Regions from separate parts of the Homo sapiens genome. Here region 1 is linked to region 2. A link means that fine-mapping ties the variant in region 2 to the expression of a gene that starts in the linked region. Tissue or cell type: NK cells. Region 2 holds a variant in brackets; the other region holds the start of a gene. All regions are shown on one strand. Distances are from middle to middle.

The links. PIP is the estimated chance that this variant, and not a neighbour inherited with it, causes the effect.
Region 1: TPD52L2 starts here. The variant in region 2 is fine-mapped to the expression of TPD52L2 in NK cells (Gilchrist 2021, PIP 0.95). The same link has a PIP of 0.9 or more in CD4 T cells, monocytes, monocytes after LPS, monocytes after interferon gamma, monocytes after triphosphate RNA and neutrophils.

What each region holds. Positions count from the first base shown.
Region 1 is chr20:63,863,832-63,866,492 of GRCh38, reverse strand. It overlaps TPD52L2 (TPD52 like 2), which reads right to left and starts at 1,223. Exons shown (of 7, transcript NM_003288.4): 1 at 1,109-1,223. The coding sequence starts at 1,127. ABHD16B-AS1 (ABHD16B antisense RNA 1) reads left to right here and starts at 1,420. Exons shown (of 2, transcript NR_165314.1): 1 at 1,420-1,669; 2 at 2,223-2,661. RefSeq lists enhancers at 1-491, 1,213-1,933, 973-2,172, 2,266-2,495 and a silencer at 1,756-1,805.
Region 2 is chr20:63,889,628-63,892,463 of GRCh38, reverse strand. TPD52L2 (TPD52 like 2) reads right to left here. Exons shown (of 7, transcript NM_003288.4): 7 at 926-2,614. The coding sequence ends at 2,519. Among named protein-coding and RNA genes, the nearest start is that of DNAJC5, 4.1 kb to the left of the region's middle. The variant T/C (reference allele first, on the strand shown) is at 1,351.

The sequences.
Region 1 (2,661 bases), 26 kb after region 2:
TGAGACTCCATCTCAAAAAAACAAAAACAAACAAACAAAAAACACCCTCCAGAATAATGCAGCACCTAGGAATTATAAAGCTTAATATGTAGCCGGGCACAGTGGCTCACGCCTGTAATCCCAGCACTTTGGGAGGCTGAGGCGGGCGGATCACAAGGTCAAGAGATCGAGACCATCCTGGGCAACATGGTGAAACCCTGCCTCTACTAAAAATACAAAAATTAGCTGGGCCTGGTGGCGCGTGCCTGTAGTCCCAGCTACTCAGGAGGCTGAGGCAGCAGAATCGCTTGAACCCGGGAGGTCGAGGTTGCAATGAGCTGAGATCGCGCCACTGCACTCCAGCCTGGCGTCAGAGCAAGACTCCGTCTCAAAAAAATAAAGAAAGAAAGAAAGAAAGAAAGAAATTTAGCATCCCTCTCTAGAGCCCCAAAATGCAAGGCAGACTTTTATCATCTTCTCAAGATTTTAATCTCCTGGGCTCGCTCCACGCCCCTCAGTGGCCATCTCATACTGCTCTGGGGAGACTGTTCTGGAAACAGGCCTGGTATGCTGGGTGTGCCCCTGACTCACTCCACCCCCTCTCCATGAGGCAACCCCTAAGCAGGCTGAGCTCCGAGCAGAGTTGCTGCCCAAGGGGAGCTCTGCTGAACGCGAAGACCCCTTCTCTGCTCGGGAGCCGCCCTCAACACCTCGGACTGGGTCCAGGGCCAGACAGCGTGAACCCGAGGGCCCCGCGCAGGGACCGGGGGGTGGCAGAGCAAGCAAGAGCAGGGCACGGGGTGGGCGGCATAAGCGAGACCTGCTGGGAGCGACAGAACCCAAACTACGGGAGCAACGGCGGGCGCCAGGGAACCACACCTCGGAACGGTCCCAGGGGAGACCAGGAGGGCGGCTGGAGAGAGCCCAGGAAGCGGTCTGGGCCGCGGGCAAAAAACACACCACGACCATCATAAGCTTCGAGGTCAGTGGCCCCGGGAGCTGAAGAGGGGCCGCGGGGTGGGTGAACCGAGACCGAGAGGACAGAGAGTCGCAGACGCGACCCCGGGAGACGGAGAACAACGGGCAGCCTGGGCCCATCTGCGGCGAAGGGGCCGGGCCCGGCAGGTACCTTGGCCGGCGGAGTCCATGTTCGGGCGGCGTCCGGACCGCTGTCGCGGGCGCTATGGGAGCCGAGCGGGCGGCGCCGGGAGAAGCTCGCCGCGTACACACTAGCCAGCGGAACTGCCTCAGCTCCGCGGCGTTTCGTAATCCGCGATGCGACGGCTACTTCCGCCCGGGCACGTGCTCCGCCTTCTTCCCGCCCCCACCAGTGATATCCAATGAGAGTGCCGCTTGGCCCGTCCTGGTTTACCCGACTCAACCTGATAGGCCGAAACTGCGGGCGAACCAGGAAAGGGAGGCGTGGTTCGGCGGGAATCCATTCCAGGTTGACTCCACCAGCGAGAATCACAGGTAGAACGGTCAGAGTAGCGGGAGGACTGGGAAGGTGGGAAGTGGGAGGACCGTCCAACATGGCGCTGTGGAAAGCCAGCGCAGGGCCCCAGGGGATCTTCCGGGGCGGATGCAGCTGCCTAGGAGTGCTGGGGCTCGCGCGCCTCGGCGGCTCAAACTCTGACCCCTTGAGATCCTTTCCAGCCCGACCCCTTACTTTAGGGGTCAGCCTGCCCCCGTAAGTCCTGTTATTTATTGTATTTATATTCTTTTTTTAGTTGGTCCTTTTTTGTTTGTTTTTGAGACGGAGTTTCACTCTTGTTGCCCAGGCTGGAGTGCCATGGCGCGATCTCAGCTCACTCCAATCTCTGCCCTCCGGGTTCAAGCGATTCTCCAGCCTCAGCCTCCCGAGTAGCTGGAATTACAGGCGCGCGCCAACACGTCCGGCTAATTTTCGTATTTGTAGTAGAGACGGGGGTTTCGCCACCTTGGCCAGGCTGGTCTAGAACTCCTGACCTTAGGTGATCCACCCGCCTCGGCCTCCTAAAGTGCTGGGATTACAGGCGTGAGCCACCGCCCCTCACGCCTGGCTAGTTTGTCCTTTTCATGGGGACTTTTTATTGTACGCGGGTTACTCTGAAAAAGATCGCGATTCGTCCCCTCGCCCTGCAGGCGCCGCTGCCGCCTCGCCTCGGGCGTGGACCCTGCGGCTCGGGCCTGCGCGTGTGCACCCCGAGGTTGTCTCACTTCCTGTTCAGGGCGACCAGCGCTGCGCCCTCCCCACTCCACAGATGAGGAAGCTGAGGTTAAAGTCACTTGCCCCAGGTCACTCCGCAAGTTGAAGCGCAACCAGGATACTCTGGAACAGGATGCCTGACTTCAGAGGAGAGGCGCGTAACCACCAGGCAACTGGCCCCACGAAAACAAGTCCCGCAACTTCCCTTCTTTGGCTCCTACTTGCTCCCGGAAGAAAAGCCTTAAACGGTATTCAAGCCCTTTAGGATCTGATGTCCTAGGACTCCACTCTGGGCTTCCAGCCTGGGGTGGTACTGGTCCCTAGGCATGGAAGCTCCTCCCACTGCCCCTTCCTTCACCCGGCCACCTCCTCCCACAGGTGTCTTCCTGGTACTCTTGCACAGGCCCGAGTCCCTTACCACCACGGCCTTAGCCTGCTCTCGTGCTCTCAGTAATGTTTTCTCCATTTGCTGCCTTTCATTCTTTCCAGAGATT
Region 2 (2,836 bases):
CTTTCCCTGCTCTTACATCTGGGGTGAGCCCAGCTACCTCTGACCTCCAAAGGAAGACTGGTGCTCCCACTAGTTTTCCAGTGGGAACTCCAAAGACTAGGAATGGATACATGCAAAGCGCCAGACCAGGGGCAGAGTGGAGGTTCCCCCTCAAGGGTCTTTTCCTTTTTCTTTTTCTTTTTTTTTTTTTTTTTTGAGACAGAGTCTCGCTTTATCGCCCAGGCCGGAGTGCAATGGCGTGATCTCGGCTAACTGCAACCTCCACCTCCCGGGTTCAAATGATTCTCCTACCTCAGCCTCCTGAGCAGCTGGGATTACAGGTGTGAACCACCACACTCGGCTAATTATTTCACTTTTTTGTAGAGTCAGGGCCTGGCTACGATGCTCAAGCTGGTGTCAAACTCCCAGGCTCAAGTGATCCTCCCATCTTGGCCTTCCAAAGTCCTGAGCTTACAGACATGAGCCACCACACCCAGCCTACTGTTTTTAGTTGAGATGGAATCCCGGTATGCTGCCCAGGCTGGTCCTGAACTCCTGGGCTCAGGTGATCTGCCTCACCCTCCAGAATGGCGGGGACTACAGGTGTGCTCAGCAGCAGCTCAGTGCTTGCAGGGGCAGCTGGCGAAGCCTCTGGAGCTCCCGGCCCAACCTGGAGCCTGGTGAGCTCCTCCTCCGCCTCCTGGGGCTCAGTTTCAACTCCTCTTCCCAAGACGCTGGGTCTGACCTCACAGGTTGGCCATATACCATTCTCCCCTCACAGCTGGCTCCCCTTGTCCCAGCATTGAGGACCTGCCCTTTGTCTTTAGCACTGTCCCCTGCCTGCCTCTCCCAAGGGTGCGGACTCATTAGGGCAGGTACCGTGTGCCAGTTCATTTACCACTCTTATCATGGTCCCGAACGATACATCACACAAGCCGAGGCGGACTTTCCCCCAAAGGAATGCTTTATTGACAAATTACCCATTATTATAATAACTTTAAGGAAAAGATACATCGGTCAACACCCGCACAACCTGCCTTCTCACCACACCCCACAGGCCGATTTTAACCCTGGACGAAGGGCACCGAGCGCTGGGCTTCCCTGGCCCCTGCATCTCTGTCGTGTGTGGAGTGCCATCCCCAAGGGTGTCTGAACTGTCCGGGGACACGGCTGTCAGAGGACACTTGCTCTACCGAACAGGACACCTTGAGCTGAGCAGCCCTTCCCCTCCCGGGAGTGGCAGAGCCGGGCACACCACAGGCAGGCCCTCAGTGTCCTGCCAAGAGCCACTAAGGCACAGAGCTCCCCCTGCAGACCACGCCATCTGACATGCAGGGCCCCGGTGTGCGAGAGAGGCTGCTGGGGTGCGAC[T/C]ATTTAGTAACAGGAAGAGATCTTTGTAGCTCCTGAGAAAAAGACTGTAACGGCAATCCTGGCTGATGCCCACGCCCCACCCTCCACCTGACCTGTGGGGTCGTTTCATCCCAAGTACAGCAAGCAGGAGGGTTGGAGTCACTGACGAATGTGAGCCGGGCCAGGCCCATGCAAAGGCAGCACTGAGAAGGGGGGCACAGTTCTTTTAAAGGGTGCTAAAGACAGGGTTTTCCTTCTCTTGGCCCCTCCCATTCCCAGAGGCTCAAGAGCCCTTTAGGGCAGGGCATAGGAGCCAGCGGGAGCTGCCACGGTTGAGAAGAGAAGCAGGTTTTGTACACTGGGATGGAGTGTGCGTGACATAAAACACCTCAACTGGAAGAGGCTGCCACGCAGGCCAGGTGTAAAATTCCACACAATGCTCACAACCATTAAGGAACCCTCATCTATATACATATAAAAATTAGAAAGAAATAAAGCATAAGGCAATGTAAGGCTTGTATTTCAGCTTGAGTCCAAAGAAATAATATTCTATGAGGCTAAAGCTGCTTTGCCTAATTTAAACTTTTTGAAAAGTCCACTGCATTTAAAAAATAATGAATTTGCTTCCGTTAAAGCTAGATTCGCGTAACAATCAGGCAGCTGCTGAGGGTCAGTTTCCTTTCTGGGGGTCTCAGAAAATGGACAGTTTTCTCGTTCGGCATTTTGAGATAAAAAATTGCGTAACAGGTAGGACTTGCTGGGTGATTGCATTCCTTCTGTGAGTCAGGGAAGGAGGAGGAGGAAGAAGTCAGAAAATGCCACTTATTTTATGCTTAGAACTCTTCAATCCTTCAACATTCTGATGGGCTAACATGATTCCCAAAGGGAGCCTGGGCTTTGGCTCAATATTCTTTCAAACCCTCCGCCCTGTCCACTTCCTGCACCCCTAGGAAGGACAGCACAGTGATCTGTTTCATCTACAAACGTGAGTGTAAAACATCTGTGTACAAGCCTGTGTTCTTCAAATTCATGCAAACGCGGCAGCCACATCTCCGCGTGGATGGGCAGGACTGTCCTCAGGGCCGGCTCTGCTCATCCGCCCTGGCTGGCTGCTCCGCTGAACAGAGCTGCGGCTGTGATGCTGAGGCTGGGTTGCGTGTGCTCTGCAGCGGGTGAAGCAACCACAGGCTTAGAAAGGTGCGGGATCCGACAGGGGCTTGTCACCACTCCCCGCTGAGGAAGGGAGGTTGTCACTGCCGTTCTCTCTGTCACCCACAACCTTAGACTACAGGAGAGAAAAGATGAAGACAGAAAAACCTGAGACAGAGCACACAACACAAGGCAGATCCCAGGCCCATGCTCAATGCTCTACAAAAGCTTATGTAACACGAACACTGCTCAGCAGGGACAGGGAGCAAATCACGGACGGGCACCAGCCCCAACAGGTCTCCAGAGAACGATGCCAAATGAAGACAGTGAATGCCAAAAAGCTGCACACTGTATCGTT